Linked DNA regions of Homo sapiens: region 2 is linked to region 1. The links come from fine-mapping of genetic effects on gene expression. Tissue or cell type: visceral fat. Region 1 holds a variant in brackets; the other region holds the start of a gene. All regions are shown on one strand. Distances are between the middles of the regions.

Region 1 (8,108 bases):
TAGACTTAAGTCAGTGGTTTGCCAGGGGCTCTCGGGCCTTCGGCCATAGACTGAAGGCTGCACTGTTGGCTTCCCTACTTTTGTGGTCTTGGGACTTGGACTGGCTTCCTTGCTCCTCAGATTGCAGACAGCCTATTGTGGAACTTCACTTTGTGATAGTGTGAGTCAATACTCCTTAATAAACTCCCCTTCACAGATACATCTATCCTATTAGTTCTGTCCCTCTAGAGATCCATGACTAATACACTACCCAATGTAATAAAGATTTCTCCCTCCAGGGCCAAGGTCAGGCAGGTTTGCTTGCATCCCATTATAAAAGATTGGCCTTGCCTAAGCACAGGTTCCCTCATCCATGATGCCACCCACTGTATGTGTGCCATCCATCTGGGCATCTCTGTTGTCCCTGTGAGACTTGAGGATCAAGAGAAAACCAAAAAACATGAAGCTCATGCTGCTTTCTGTGCTGTGAGTAGTAAAGTTCTTTGTCTCTGATCCAGGAGTCTTGTGTCTTCTGCCAGCATTTATGAAATTGTGGTGGGCTAGCTAGTTATCTTGTAGGTAAAGTAAAATCTCAGATCCTTCCTACCTCGGAGACTCTCATGGACCTATCATTCTAATGGGGGAAGAAAAAAACATGAAAACAAATAATGTAATTATAAATTGTCAAAGGTGCTGGAAACAATGATTAAATAGTGTGGAACAGGGCAGAGGGTAAAGACAAGATAATGAGGGAAGACCTCTCAGAAGTGGTACCATTTAAACCAAGGAGTAGCACTATTTAAAGTGTCTGAAAGAGGAGTTCAGTTTAACCAGGCACGTGAAGCTTGAAACCCAAAAACTCTGGGCAGAGGGAATAACACACACATCTGAGGCATAGACAAAGAACAGAGAAAGGTCAATGTAGGTCTAGAGGGATGTGAGGCCTGAGATGAGTGAAAGATTCTCCCCACGGCCTGAAAGCTTGAAGGGATGAGGAACTCCTCCCTTCTCAGGCCCAGTGCCAAAGAGCAAGGCTACTTGCACCAGCAGCATGCGCCAGCAAGAGAGCAGAAGCAGGAAGAAAGCCAGCCGGAAGACACCTACCCTGGCCGGAAGACACGTACCCCCGAAGATCGAGAAAGAGGCTGTCCGGGTAGTATGTAGCAGTCACGTCAGACTGAGACACTTCTTGTTTACAGGAGACCATAAAACCCCTGCCCCATCCTCATTTGGTGCTGAGGCCGTTTTAGGCCTCAGCCCGCCTGTACCCAGGCACTCATTAAAACAGCGTGTTGCTCCACAGGGCCTCGTGTTGTCTGTTGGCACGCTCTTGGGCTTGGAACCGATACAAGAACCTTACAATGAGGTGGAAGAGAGAAGCACGGCAGGATTGTGCACAAAGTCTTGTCTGTTGTGGAATGGAGTTTGGACCTTTCCCACCACTTTCAAGGAAGGGAATGAATTGACCTGGTTCACTTCCTAAGAAGGCTACTGTCTGTGTGGTGCTCCTAGAGGCATGGGAGAGGAGTGAAGACAGAGATGACCAAAGAAACACTTGGGGAAAGAATGGAAGCGGCATGTGTTAGCTTGGGAAAGGGAAACATACCAGCATCCGAGATCTGGCCATCAGGGAGAATAACAAACACTGACGGTAAGCCAGAAATACTGCGGGTTTTGGAGATGGATCTAATTCTTCAGAACATCTGTAGATGTTATAAGAATGATATTTCCCTAATGACTTATTTCAGTGATGCCATTATCTGCATTGATTTTCTTTCCCCCATCCCTCTCCCTCTCCCTCTCCCCCTCCCTCCCTGCCTCCCTCCCTTCCTTCCTTCCTTCCTTCCTTCCTTCCTTCCTTCCTTCCTTCCTTCCTTCCTTCCTTCCTTCCTTCCTTCCTTCTTTCTTCTTTTTCAGGGTCTCACTCTGTCATCCAGGATGGCTGAAGTGCAGTGGTGGGATCTTGGCTCACTGCAACCTCAGCTTCCCGGATTCAAACGATTTTCGTGCCTCAGCCTCCTGAGTAACTGGGATTACAGGCATACGCCACCACGCCCAGCTAATTTTTGTAGTTTTAGTAGAGATGGGGTTTTGCCATGTTGGCCAGGCTGGTCTCTAACTCCTGACCTCAAGTGATCTGCCCACCTTGGCTTCCCAAAGTGCTGGGAATACAGGTGCAAGCCACCGTGCCTGGCCATCTGCATTGATTTTCTATTGGCAATGCTTCCAAACACTTTCCCCTGATCATCCCTCTTTTCTATGTCAATTGCTAGTGACCTCTAAAGAAAAACTTTACTAGAGAAGTTGCTATTTAAAATAACTTACACAATGAAGAATTATCTTTATTTTGTTTGTTTTGTAAGTTGCAATAGTAGTGTTTTCAGGGTGAAAGCATGCTCATTAGTTAGGTGAAGACTAGGGGCAATAGTGATACATCCCAAACATGAGTCATGCATGTTGACAGGGCACTCGGCTCCACACGGGCATTCAGGGCAGGGTGGATGGAGGCTCTGCTCTTGCAGCTGCCCCATCTGGAACATGTGGTCTTTTTGGTTTTTAATTGCCTCAGTTAGAAGTGGCACATGTCACTTCCTCTCACCATCCACTAACCAAAATTAGTCCTATGGCCTCAACCTAATGGCAAGAAAGGCCAAGAAACCTAGAAAGTAAGTTCTCACTTATCAGTGGGAGCTAAACACTGGGTATGCATGGACATAAAGATGTCAACAAAAGAAACTGGGGACTATCAGATGGGGAAGACGGGGGAAGAAGGGAAGGAAGTTATGGCATGGAAGTTAGCTCATGTGAAGTGCTAAAGAGGGCAGTAATGCAGTGGAGGGAGACGAGGGTAGAGAAATGGACTTGCGGTTTGAGACAGGTGGCTGGGGAGGCCTTGCTGAGAAGGGGGCATTTCGATATGGCCTGAGGAAATGTGACAAGGCACCTGACAGAGATCTGAGGGAAGAGTTTTCCAGAAAGAGGGGACAGCAAAAGCAAAGGCCCTGAGATGGGTGCTTGCCTCACATTTGGGAACAGTAAGGAGATAGAGGGTCTAGGGCAGAGTGGACAATGGGATAACTGATGATGTTGTGGTCAGAGACACGAGGGGCGCAAGATTTTGCAGGCCATTGTGAGGACTTTGGCACTTAACCTAAGTGATATGGGGAACTCCATTAGAATTTGATCTTTGGGAATTAAAGACGTAGAAACTGGGAGAAAAAAGGATTCAAAAACGTAAGCATCAGTGGCAGCCTAAGGTTCTAGGACAGTTAAGGGAGCATTTGGGACTTTGTTCATAAGACAGTTTTGTGGTATTTCAGCATTTTTCCTTTCAGGAGATCATGCGGTGACCAGAACAATCACTGCATGTCAGTGCTTGCACAAACCAAAACAGCCCCCTGCTGGCTTTCAGCAGTGCGGCAG[G/A]CCAGGCATTTTCCTTAGATCCAATTGCAGCCTCGTGGGGTACCTCACTCACAGCAGGGTGGGAGGTAGACGGGTGTATCAGTCAGTGTTCTCCAGAGAAACAGAACTTGACATGGTTTGGGTATCTTTCCCCTCCAAATCTCATGTTGAAACGTGATCCCCGTTGTTGGAAATGGGGCCTCGTAGGAGGTGTTAGGGTCATGGGAGTGGGTCCCTCATAAATGGCTAGACGCCATCTCCATGGTAATGAGTGCATTCTCTCTCCGCCATCTCCATGGTAATGAGTGAGTTCTCTCTCCGTGAGTTCACAGGAGAGCTGTTTGTTTAAAGGAGGCTGGCACCTCCTCCCCTTTCTCTTGCTCCCTCTCTCACTATGTGATATGGTTTGGGTTTGGGTACCCACCCAAATCTCATGTTGAATTGTAATCCCCAGTGTTGTGGGAGGTGCCTGGTGGTAGGTGATTGGATCATGCTGCAGATTTCCCGCTTCCTGTTCTTGTGATAGCGAGTGAGTTCTCCCGAGATCTGATTGTTTAAAAGTGTGTAGCACTTCCCCCTTCACTCTCTTCCTCCTGCTCCTGCCATGTAAGACGTGCCTACTTCCCCTTTGCCTTCCACCATGATTGTAAGTTTCCGGAGGCCTCCCCAGCATCATGCTTCCTGTACATCCTGCACAGCCATGAGAAAATTAAACCTCTTTTCTTTAGAAATGACCCAGTCTCAGACATTTCTTTACAGCACTGTGAGAACGAACTAACACACCATGTCACACACCTGCTCCCCTCTGCCTTCTGCCATGAGTAAGAGCTCCCTGAGGGCTCATCAGAAGCCAAGCTGATGCTGGTGCCAGGCTCATACAGCCTGCAGAACTATGAGCCAAATAAGCCTCTTTATAAACTACCCAGTCTCAGGTATTCTTTTATAACAACACAAAACCAATGAGAGAAATATAGCTCCTTTTCCTGGTCCCCTGCTTGTAGACAGCAGGTCATGGGGTTTCTCAGCCTCTATAATCATGTGAGCCAGTACCTTATAATTAGCTTCTCTCTAAAGATTTGGACTCTGCAGGTTGGGAAGTCCCATGATCTACCTTCTGCAAGCTGGAGACCCAGGAGAGCCAGTGATTTAGTTGGGAGGCCTGAGAGCTACAGAGCCAATGGTGTGACTTCCCCAAGTCTGAAGATGTGAGCACCAGGAGCACCAAAGGCTGGAGAATCCATGTTCCAGCCCAAGCAGCCAGGCAGAGAGCAAATTCACCCTTCCTCCCGCTTTATGCTCCATTCAGACCCTCAGCAGATGGGGTGATGCCCACTCACCCTGGGGAGGGCCATCTGCTTTGTTCAGCTCACCAATCCAAATGCCCTTCTGGAAACACCCACGGAGACACATCTGGGAACAACATTTAACCAGCTACCCATGGCCCAGTCAGGTTAACACACAATGTTAACCATCATAGCAGGGTTCTGTTTCTTTCCATTTTATTTCTTCCCCAAGGGTAGTAACCCTGCAGAGTGAGTCCAGGTGAATGTCTGTGACACCCACTGGGCAGCCTCTCACAGTGCCTCTCACTACCTTCTGCCTCGATTTCCCATGAATGGCCCTGATATCCAGTCACCCCTACTGTACTGAGCAGATGAGGAAAAGCCCAGTGCCTGCCCCTCCTTAAGAGTCTTCCCAGGTAGTGATGGGGGTGCCCACATTGACGTGAGGCTGGTTGGGATATGTTTTCTCCCTCAAATGGGAGAGGTCAAAGGGTTGGAATAGCCTGGCTCTGCTCCTTCTTTTTCTTTACCTCTTTCTTTCTTTCTCTTTCTTTCTTTTCTTTCTTTCTCTTCTTTCTTTCTTTCTCTTTCTTTCTTCTTTTTCGTTTTCTTTTCTTTTCTTTTTTTTTTTTTTTTTAAGAGAGACAGGGTCTCACTCTGTCACCCAGGTTGGAGTGCAGTGGCAGGAGTTCATTGCAGCCTTAAACTCCTAAACTCAAACAATCCTCCTCCTTCAGTCTACTGAGTAGCTGGAACCACAGGCTCGCAGCACCTCACTTATCTAATTTTTTTTTTTTTTTTTTTTTGGTGGAGACAGCCTCTTGCTGTGTTGCCCATGCTGGTCCGGAACTCATGGCCTCAAGCAATCTTGCTGCCTCATCCTCCCTTCAAATTGCTAGGATTACAAGCATGAACCACCATGCCTGGCCTTTGTCCCTTCCTGCCCCTGCTCTGTCGACCTCCAGGAATGTTTCCTTATTGCCCACTCCCCCTTCCTCCCATCCCACTGCCTTTCAAGGATCTAGTGAAGGGTCTAAAGTATTTCTGGGTCCTGCCCAATGCTGGAGTTATTGGACCTCCTATCAGGTGTCTCCCACCACTCATCCATTTGGCCATGTGTAACTATGGGGGCTGTGACCATGATGCTGAGTGGCTCTGTCTTGACTTGCTGTTGCTTACATGTGCATGCACCCACATTTAAGCATTTACAGGTTGTGCTGTGTCCGTGTGTGAGCTCAGGAATACCTGTATACCTATTCAAGAGCATCTTCCAGAGGTGGCTACTTCATGCTCCTGTGTTTTTAACGATGGGATATTGACAACAAGGAACAAGAGATAAAGGCAGAGGTAGAGATGATAAAGACAGAGACAGAGAGAGACAGAGAGGCCTCCCCAGGCCTTCGGCTCTACTAAGACATTCTAACTTTTTGGTACATAGGCTGAAGTCGGGTGGAGTTGGGAAGAAGAAACAAGAAATAGGACAGGGAGAAATGTTGTTCCACTTTGCCATGATCTCACAGGATTTCCAACTTACCTGCTTCCTTTCCCTAATTATCAGGACCCTACAGCATGGCCAGGTTTTCTTTCATGGTCTTCCATTTGCCAAGTGAAAATGTTTTCAGCTGGGAGTCTATGCCACTCCTGCCACAGCTGGAAACCTCCCCAGGCCTTCAGAAAGTATTTATGGTTGAGCGCTGACTTTTCGTATTGTAGATGAAGATGTCAGCATCCCAGGCAGCTGTGCGTTAAGTTGGGACCAGCACAAATAGCTCTTAGCATTGTTCAACGACAGCACAGCCCCATGTGTCTTTTAAAAATAGCAATGCTGTATTTGAACTTTTAAAGAGAAGACATGTTGGGTGTGTGTTGGCCACGCCCTCAGCTATCTTCATTCTAAGGAGATACAAAATTAGAACATTTAGGAAGAGAAAAGGGAAGGAACAATCATTAACACGCTCCCCCACGCCCACACACCCTCTTCACCTCATTTCACAGTGAGGCCCTTCTTGTGCACATCCCTGAGAGACAATACTCAGAAGAACTTGTCCTCTCTAAGCCACCAGGATTAATCCATAGAGGATTTTGTCTGAAAATAAGTGAAGAGACCTAAAACTCAGCCTTATTAGTTGATATCAGTTAAAAAAAGAAAGTCTACTGGGTCAGAGTGAGAAAGAGGAAAACAGTGTGATGATTTTACTAATGTACCAGATATGATTTTCAAAGGAAAAATTTCTCCTATCCAAACTACTTCAATGCCACAAAGCCACCTTCTTGGACGAGAGCAGGAAGAAAGTGTGCTGGTTGCTGGCAGCGGGCATAAGACTCTCCCTAGCACTGTCCCAGCAGGCCCAAGTCCTGCCCATGACAGGGCCTCTGTGTAACTAGCACCTGAGGGTGTGTACTCAAGGTGAAAGCAGACCCCAGGCGTTCTGACCCTTGTGAGTGAATATAGTATTGCTTGGAGGTGGCAGCTGGGATAGTTGGAATTGTTATGAGAAATTCCAAGAGGGCCAGACGCTTCTGTGGGAATGCCTGCAAATTGAGATGTGAAAGAATGTTCCATCTAGGGAAAGAAAAAATGTTTAAAGAACACTGTTACTCCCAACCATCAACTTCAAGTTCCAAATGGGGAGAAATGCTGTATGCCTTGGAAAAATGAAGCTCAACTATAAACACCCTGTCTTCAGGGAGTGGTTGGCACTCACTCCTACAAGGACCCTGAGATTTTTTTTTTCTTTTTCCCCACAATAAGCCTTTTTATAAAATTCTTTTTAAATTTATATATATTTAGGGGTCTGAGGCCATTTTAACACATCAAACTTTAGTCTTCCTGCCACTCTGGGCATCATGACAGCTGCTTTGAGAAACAGGTCTCTCCCAATACTCTCCACTGCTCCAAAAGAAAGTTGCCCTCTGCTATAGATCCTTTGTGCAAACAGACATTTTGCAGGTACTAAGGGTCAGTTTCTGTATCTATTCTGCCACATTTTTGCCTATTTGATTCCTCTTACTCATGCTTCACTGCTTCCTGCTGCTTGCTCCTTTCTGCTTTCTACTGAAATTCTTGGGCATTTACCCTAACTCAGCAGTCCCCAACCTTTTTGGCACCAGGGACTGGTTTGGTGGAAGACAACTTTTCCACAGACCAGCGTTGGTTGGGGGGTGGTTTCAGGTGATTCAAGCACATTGCACTTATTGTGCATTTTCTTTTCTTTTTCCTTCCTTCCTTCCTTCCTTCCTTCCTTCCTTCCTTCCTTCCTTCCTTCCTTCCTTCCTTCCCTCCTTCCTTCCCTCCTTCCTTCCTTCCCTCCTTCCTTTCTTTCTTTTCTTTTCTTTCTTTCTTTTTTTTTTTTTGAGACAGAGTCTCACTCTGTTGCCCAGGCTGGAGTGCAGCGGCACAATCTCGATTTCAGCTCACTGCAATCTCCACCTCCCAGGTTCAAG
Region 2 (8,108 bases), 290 kb after region 1:
GAGCAGATCACGAAATCGAGAGATCGAGACCATCCTGGCCAACATGGTGAAACCCCGTCGTACTAAAAATACAAAACTTAGCTGAGTGTGCTAGCGCACACCTGTAGTCCCAGCTACTCCGGAGGCTGAGGCAGGAGAATCACTTGAACTCGGGAGGAGGAAATTGCAGTGAGCCAAGATCGCGCCACTGCACTCCAGCCTGGTGACAGAGTGAGATTCTGTCTCAAGAAAAAGAAAAACAAAAAAGAAAGGGGAAGAGTTCTAGAGAACAGATTTCAAAAACTTGTTTTCTATTATATTTATAGCAGTATTCACATTGGAAGACCAGTGCAGTGACACACTTTCGTTATCCCAGCTACTCAGGTGGCTGAGGCAGGAGGATCACATAAGCCCAAGAGTTCAAGACCAGCCTGAGCCAAATAGTGAGAACCTGTCTCTAAAAATGAAATATAATCAAAAATTGAGATGACCCGATCTCCTCCCTTTCCAAAAAGTTGTTTTCTTGCTATTTCTCCAGAGTTGGTCAGGTTTTAAAAATTAATAATCTGGGGCAGTAGATGAAATTTCTGAAAATTATGTGCAGGTTTCCTTTTTTATTTTTGGATGGGCCCTAGGTATTAGAGGTGCTCTTTTTAAGTATCTACACAGCCTGCTAAATAAACACATTCAATTGGAAAGCAATGCTTTCCATTTCTTATTCTGTATCAAATATTTTACTTTCGGATTAACTTTCATTCTTATAGGGAAAAATAAATATTTCCAGTTTGAAATTCGTAAGATGGCATTGATAATAAGTAAATCTCTATAGATTTATGTGAAGTACAGTTACAGTAAGTCACCCATTTACAAATGGATTATATTTGAAAGTTTCATTTGAAGTAGGTTTGTTTTTTGGGGTTGGGATGCTTTTTCCTTGGAAAAAATACTTAATTAAACTTTTTTTTTTTTTGAGACAGAGTTTCACCCTTGTCACCCAGGCTGGAGTGCAATGGCATGATCTCAGCTCACTGCAACCTCCGCCTCCCGGGTTCAAGCAATTCTCCTGCCTCAGCCTCCCGAGAAGCTGGGATTACAGGCACATGCCAGCCACCATGCCTGGCTAATTTTTGTATTTTTAGTAGAGACAGGGTTTCACCACGTTGGCTAGGATGTTCTCAATCTCCTGACCTCAGGTAATCCATCCGCCACAGCCTCCCAAAGTTCTGGGATTACAGGTGTGAGCCACCCCGCCCTGCTTAAACTTTTAATTTTGAGATAATTATAGATTCAGATGTAGTTGTAAGAAATAGTACAAAGTGATCATGAGGGCTTTTTACCCAGTTTCTCCAGTGATAACATCTTGCAAAGCTATACAATAGTATCACAACCAGGATATTGACACTGATGTGGTCAATCCAATAGAAGAGTTCCAGAACAGGGGTCTCTCATGTGGCCCTGTTAAACCACCTCATCCCCATCCCTAACCTCTAACAACTCCCATCTCTTCTCCATTTCTATAATGTTGTCATCTGGGAAATGCTATGTAAGTGTACTCGTATAGTATCTAACATTTTGGGATTGGCTTTCTGTCACTCAGCATAATTTAATTCCCTGGATTCTTATCCAGGTCGTGGAACGTACTAATAATTTGTTCCTTTTTATTGTTGAGTAGTATTCCATGGTATGGATGTACCACAATGAGGATTGGGTAGAAGCTCATTGCTTTTGCCTAGGGGTGTCTAATTGCTCTAGCACTGTTTGTTGAATGGCACAGAAATCAGTTTGGCATATTCATGTGGGCCTGTCTCTGGGTTCTCCAGTCTGTTCCACTGATCTATGTTATGTGTCTCTCTTTTTGCCAATGCTGTGTTGTCTTGATTACTGTAGTTATCCAGTAGGCCTTAATATGGGATAGATTCATTGCTCTAACTTTTTTCTTCTTTTGAGACGGAGTCTCACTCTGTGGCCCAGGCTGGAGTGCAGTGGCATGATCTTGGCTCACTGCAACCTCTGCCTCCCAGGATTGGGTTCAAGCGATGCTCCTGCCTTAGCCTCCCTAGTAACTGGGATTACAGGTGTGCACCACCACGCCTGGCTAATTTTTCTGTATTTTTGATAGAGACAGTGTTTCACCATGTTCATTAGGCTGGTCTCGAACTCCTGACCTCAGGTGATCCACCCGCCTCGGCCTACCAAAGTGCTGGGATTACAGGCATGAGCCACCACGCCCAGACTAACTTTTTTCTTCTTTTTCAAGATGGTTTTTAGCTATTCTAGGGCCTGTACCTTTACTATAAATTTTAGAATATCTGCCAAAAATCACTGTGAGGCCAGGCAGGGTGGCTCACACCTGTAATCCTAGCACTTAAGAAGGCCGAAGTGGGAGGACAGCTGGAGCCCAGGAGTTCAAGACAAGCCTGGCCAACCTAATGAGACTCCATCTCTACAAAAACTAAGAAATTAAAAAATTAGCCCAGTGTGGTGGTGCACATCTGTAGCCCCAGATATTCAGGAGGCTGAGGCAGGAGGACTGCCTCCTGGGGAGGTTGAGGCTGCAGTGAGCCATGATTGCACACCTCTACTCCAGCCTGGACAACAGAGCAAGACCATGTCTCAAAAAAACAAAACAAAACAAAACAAAACAAAAAAACCTTGCAAGATTTTGATAGGAATTTTGTTAATCTGTAGATCAGTTTGGGGACAATTGACATCTTTTGTGTGTTGATTTTTCTTCCAATTCATGATTATCATCATTGGAAAGAAGTGAGTATGATGAGTCTTCTAAGCCAGGCAGATAGCAAAAAAATTAGGAAAGTAAATGGATTGCACAGGAAGAATTAACTGGGATTTAAATAATCAAAGACAGAAAGGATATATAAAAGAAGTGACGAAGGAGATTTACCCTATTAGACTCCAGTGTATTAATCTAGGACAGTTTGGTTGCTATGGGGAAGCAGTGTGCAAAAACTTAAGAGGCACACAAAAGACTGATGTTTATTTTGTGGGAGTGAATCTTTTTTTAGGAAGGAAATAGCACTATTGTGGTAACAGTGATTCATTTTCTCCTCCTATCTTCTCTTTACAGAGAAGACCCAAATAGTGAACTGTTTCATGTAAGTTTTTATTTATTTTTGCCCTACTTTTCTCTAGGGAGGGGCTTACCACAGCTTATAAAAATACGTAAAACAAGATCAAATAAACTTTAAAATGAGGAAAAAGCCAATATGGTCCAAGGGAAAAGAAGATCAGGGTCAGGACTGAGATTAGGATGCAAAAGCCATGCTATGAAATTTTGTTTGTTTGTTATCTTGAGATGGGTAAAAAAAAAAAAAAACAGTTGACTGGGACAAATACCCCTAGCACAAAACAGTCATGAAGCCAATGTTTAATTATTATACCTGTCATCTTTTCACCTGGCCTCAGGACTGTCCTCTTAGGGAGAGGCATTGTTCTGTAGGGTTAATTAGTAACAGGAATTTAGATCCTGCTTTGAGAGGCCTCCTGTGCTGGCCGAAGCAGCTGGTGGTCTGAGAACCCTGACACCCAGAGGCATACCACTGGGAGGCCCCGCGCAGCACACAGCTTTTGCTGTACTCCAGCCCAAGTCTTATGGGGTTTGTGGTTTATACTGAAGTTGGTGCAGACAATTAAGACTCTCTGTTCTTGGTACCGACAGGGACAGAGACCTACAATTGTAAGTATTTTGTAAACAGGGTTGTGATATTTGTTTGAGTGTATTCAACATGTCAGTGGCCTTTTAATGTTTAAAAAAATGCATATGGCCATTTAAGAAGTGGTTGTGCTTCATAGTTAATATTTTTTTCATTAGGTTAGGTTCATCTGGTTTTTCAGTGAGGTGAGCTACCTGAGAGCCATAGGAAGATAGATCTTGCCAGTTCAGAGGACTGACTTTGGCTTTAAGAGAAAATATTTGTGTCATTTTCGAGAAAGTACTTCCAGCACAATGCTTTCTTCTGATGATTCATTTTCTACAGTTATTGGAAGTGGGAAGAAATCCACAGAGGTTACAGAATTTGTAAACTTGTAGAGACATGTGCCATTATATCATGCTGTTTCATAGATGTGTATGTCTGTTAGTTACTTTTCGGGCATTCATTGTATATATGTCTGTTACTTACTTTTGGGGTGTTCAGTGTCTGAGCTTTGTCAACGATTGTGTGCTCTTTTTTTAGCCTAAAAAAACTAAGTTAGAGAAATGTTTGCTCATCCAAATCTGTATTGTTGTAGCTTATTCAGTAGACTGCTGTTGTATTTTTAATTTCTCTATACAACAAGCTGAAAGACAGTGTGGACAACCTAATTGCATTTGAAGTAGCTGCTGGCCAGGCCTGCTGCAACAGCTGATGGGCTCCTCTGAATTTCCAGGGCTATTTCTGGTAGATGAGCTGGTATCAAGGCTCTCGAGTTCAGGCCATAAAAGGCCCGTCCCATGTGAAGTTGCTTCACTGCTCTGACTGCGTCCTCCCCAGGCTGAAGTGTCCTCAGGTTTCATGTGGATTTGCCCAGTAATGGATGGCTCCACCGAGGCCAGGTTGGGGAAGTTCAGCCTCGAGGACACTAGGGGACGAAAAACTTCAAAAAGAAGACTCTTTTTATTAATATTTTGGCGTTCTTTTTGGAGAGGAACTTTTGGGATGTAGCCTTTACCTGTTTCCTGAATTTGACATCCAAAAAGCCTTTTGGAAAACACCATTCTAAATTTATCCTGTTCTGAATCATCATCGCTTCTGATAGATGCAGTTGCTTGCTGACATCGTGATCTTTGATTTTGTACAACGCTATTTGGGCTAACTTTTGGGATTTTACTTTGTGCTTAGAATTTGAAAGTAGTATTCATTGGAAAGAGACTCCAAGAAAATACTCGAAGACATCAAAAGCTGGATTCGAGGGTATAACGTGTTTTGTTTTGTTTTTTAAATTAGAAAAATAAGGAATTGCAGTGTGATTTTCTTTCCCCCTTTAACTTAGAGGAACGAGGATTATACAGAAATTTGAAGTAAGTGAAAAATCTTCCTATAAATCTAAATGCAGTAGGTTTTTTTTTGTTGTTTTTGTTTTTGCTTTTTTTTAAGTGCCATCTGTCTGAGCATGTTTCCTGAGGATTTGTTGACTTCAGTCATTGGAAAATTCCTGCCAGCGTTTGCCAGTTACTGCAGCCATTCCTGTAGATACCCTTGGGCATATTTCTTGGGTTGAGAAGGATTGGACTTTTTTTTTTTTTTAAAGGATTTACTTTATGGTAGAGAAAGGTTTAATACTAAAAATTTGATTAATATAACTTAGTACATTCTGTCTAAATGTTAGCACTTAAAGTCTTGGAATTAAAGTATATTCACAATGCAACGTACTTTAATAATCGTAGCACAAGTATGGGGGTGGAGTTCAGAAGGGCAAGTTTTATTTCACTGCCATTATAATTCATGTAAAAATAGAAAATCACCAGTGATCCTTTTGCATAATCTTTGTTCTGAGGGTTCTTTGCCTTGGTACTCTCATTCTTCAGGGCTTGATTTCTAGAACTTGCGATGTTCCAGAATTTATGAGAAAAACCTCACTGTAGGTTCTAGAGTTTGAACTGCATTTTATTTTTAAATTCTCCAAGAAAAAATACTGCATCAGCCTTTTAAAGCCCTGGAGATTGCTATGGTCTCTTTGTAATTTAGCTCAGTGATTTGTTTCTGCTGAAAAACAGCAGTGAACTCTAGAACATAGAAGGCTTATTTGACGTGTTGCTTCTTTGAAAAAAAAAAAAGATTATTTCTTTATACCACATCAGATGGACAAGTACGGGCAGTCATTATTTTTACCAGGTAGGAAAACAGAGTATTTATAGAGAAGAACTTCATCGGTGAATACTGCGAGGGTTCTTCACCGGAGATAGTGTGGCAACCCTAGGGGGCGTTTGAAAATGCATGGGGGTGTTTCAGGTTTTCTCAATGACTCACTGGCATTTGGGAGGATGTGGTTAAGAATTGTAAATGCCCAATTTACATGGTGTAGGGGACAGTCCCATACAGCATTACCCTGGCCAAACTGCTGGTGGTATCCCCTGTTGAGTAAAACTGCAGGATATAAATTGTACCCTCTGTCTCCAAAGAAGAGCAGCCCAGTGCCAGGCAGATGTGTGCTGTCTCTTCTCACCAAAACCAGTGATGTCTTTTTTTTTTTTTTTTTTTTTTGAGATGGAGTCTCGTGCTGTCACCCAGGCTGGAGTGCAGTGGCACGATCTCGGCTCACTGCAACCTCCACCTCCCAGGTTCAAGTGACTCTCCTTGCCTCAACCTCCCAAGTAACTGGGATTACAGGCACCTGGCACCATATCCAGCTAATTTTTTTTTGTATTTTTAGTAGAGACGGGGTTTCACTATGTTGGCCAGGCTGATCTTGAACTCCTGACCTCGTGATCCGCCCACCTTGGGCTCCCAAAGTGCTGGGATTATAGGCGTGAGCCCCTGCACCCGGCACCCGGTGATGTCTTGAGGATCCAGGGCATCAAGTGTGCACTAGTGTCAGAGAATTTGTCTTACAATGGAAACTTTGGAGTCTATACTCTGTGTGTGTGTGTGTGTGTGTGTTAAAGATAATTTATTTGGTCACCTTGATCACTGGATGAGGCTGATGTTATACAAGCTATTGTAGTACATTAGGTGCCTTCCTGCCTACCTTTATTTAGTACTATTGGTGCATTTAATTTTGCCACATGCATAGTCTTCCAAGTGAAATTTGGTTAATGCGCTCAGCTTGCAGTGGACATCAGTCAGCCATTCAACAAACAGTTCTTTATCTTTGCTTCTACTTTGGAGACAGACTGTTTTGTGATAAACAGACTTCTGGAAGACTTTGGAGTTCAATTCAGAGTGAACATCTTTGGCAACACCTGGGGTTATATAGTATTCTTTTTTTCTTTTTTCTTTTTTTTTTTTTTGAGATGGAGTCTTGCTCTGTTGCCCAGGCTGGAGTGCAATGACACAATCTCAGCTCACTGCAACCTCCACCTCTTGGGCTGAAGTGATTCTCCTGCCTCAGCCTCCCTACTAGCTGGGATTACAGGCATATGCCACTGCGCCCAGCTAATTTTTGTATTTTTAGTAGAGACAGGGTTTCATCATGTTGCCCAGGTTGGTCTTGAACTCCTGACCTCAGGTGATCTACCAGCGCTCGGCCTCCCAAAGTTCTGGGATTACAGGCATGAGCCACCACACCCGGCGAGTTATTTAATATTCTACAGTTGAGGAATTGCATCCAAAGGAAAGGGCCCTTGGGATTTTTATAAGGATGTCTGGTGAGCTCCAGCATGCAGGGCTCTCGGGCTACATGGAGCGTTATGGAGAGTAAGCTGCTAGGAGCCTTGTGATTGTTAGGGTACAAAGGCAGCCTTGGAATCATCTCCTGAATCTGCAGCTGCCTGGGATTTTAGGACACTCATTGCAATTTTATGTTAAAGCGCTGATCTCAGGGTGCCTTGCTGTGACTGGGAGTATCCGTAGGTCTAGAACTTTCCAGCAGTTCTGGGCTTCATTGATTTGTGACTCAACTAGGAATCTTCTGGTCACCCTTGACTCCTCTCCCTTTAGGTCCCCGAGGCCTCTGCCCCACCACCTCCTCTTAAGCCTCGCCATCTTTTTTATTTTTTATTTTTTTGAGATGGAGTCTCACTCTGTCAGCCAAGCTGGAGTGCAATGGCACAATCTCGGCTCACTGCAATCCCTGCCTCCCGGGTTCAAGGGATTCTCCTGCCACAGCCTCCTGAGTAGCTGGGATTACAGGTGTCCGCCACCACGCCCGGCTAATTCTTGTATATTTAGTAAAGATGGGGTTTCACCATGTTGGTCAGGCTGGTCTCGAAATCCTGACCTCATGATCTGCCCACCTCGGCCTCCCAAAGTGCTGGGATTACAGGTGTCCGCCACCACGCCCGGCTAATTCTTGTATATTTAGTAAAGATGGGGTTTCACCATGTTGGTCAGGCTGGTCTCGAAATCCTGACCTCATGATCTGCCCACCTCGGCCTCCCAAAGTGCTGGGATTACAGGCATGAGCCACCGCGCCTGGCCTCGCCTCGCCATCTCTTACCTGGGCTACTGCTTTGCCCTTAATGGATCCCTTGG

Which allele goes with the higher level. Alleles are on the strand shown, and positions count from the first base shown. SD is a standard deviation of normalised expression in the study named.
With allele G in place of A in region 1, the expression in visceral fat of the gene that starts at base 4,445 in region 2 is lower (small effect, 0.21 SD a copy in GTEx).

What was found. PIP is the estimated chance that this variant, and not a neighbour inherited with it, causes the effect.
Region 2: it holds the start of SVIL, and the variant in region 1 is fine-mapped to the expression of SVIL in visceral fat (GTEx, PIP 0.97).

Annotation. Positions count from the first base shown.
Region 1 is chr10:29,922,088-29,930,195 of GRCh38, reverse strand. No RefSeq gene overlaps it. Among named protein-coding and RNA genes, the nearest start is that of JCAD, 130 kb to the left of the region's middle. The variant G/A (reference allele first, on the strand shown) is at 3,403.
Region 2 is chr10:29,631,308-29,639,415 of GRCh38, reverse strand. SVIL (supervillin) reads left to right here and starts at 4,445. Exons shown (of 38, transcript NM_021738.3): 1 at 4,445-4,996. RefSeq lists an enhancer at 1-394 and a silencer at 4,342-4,636.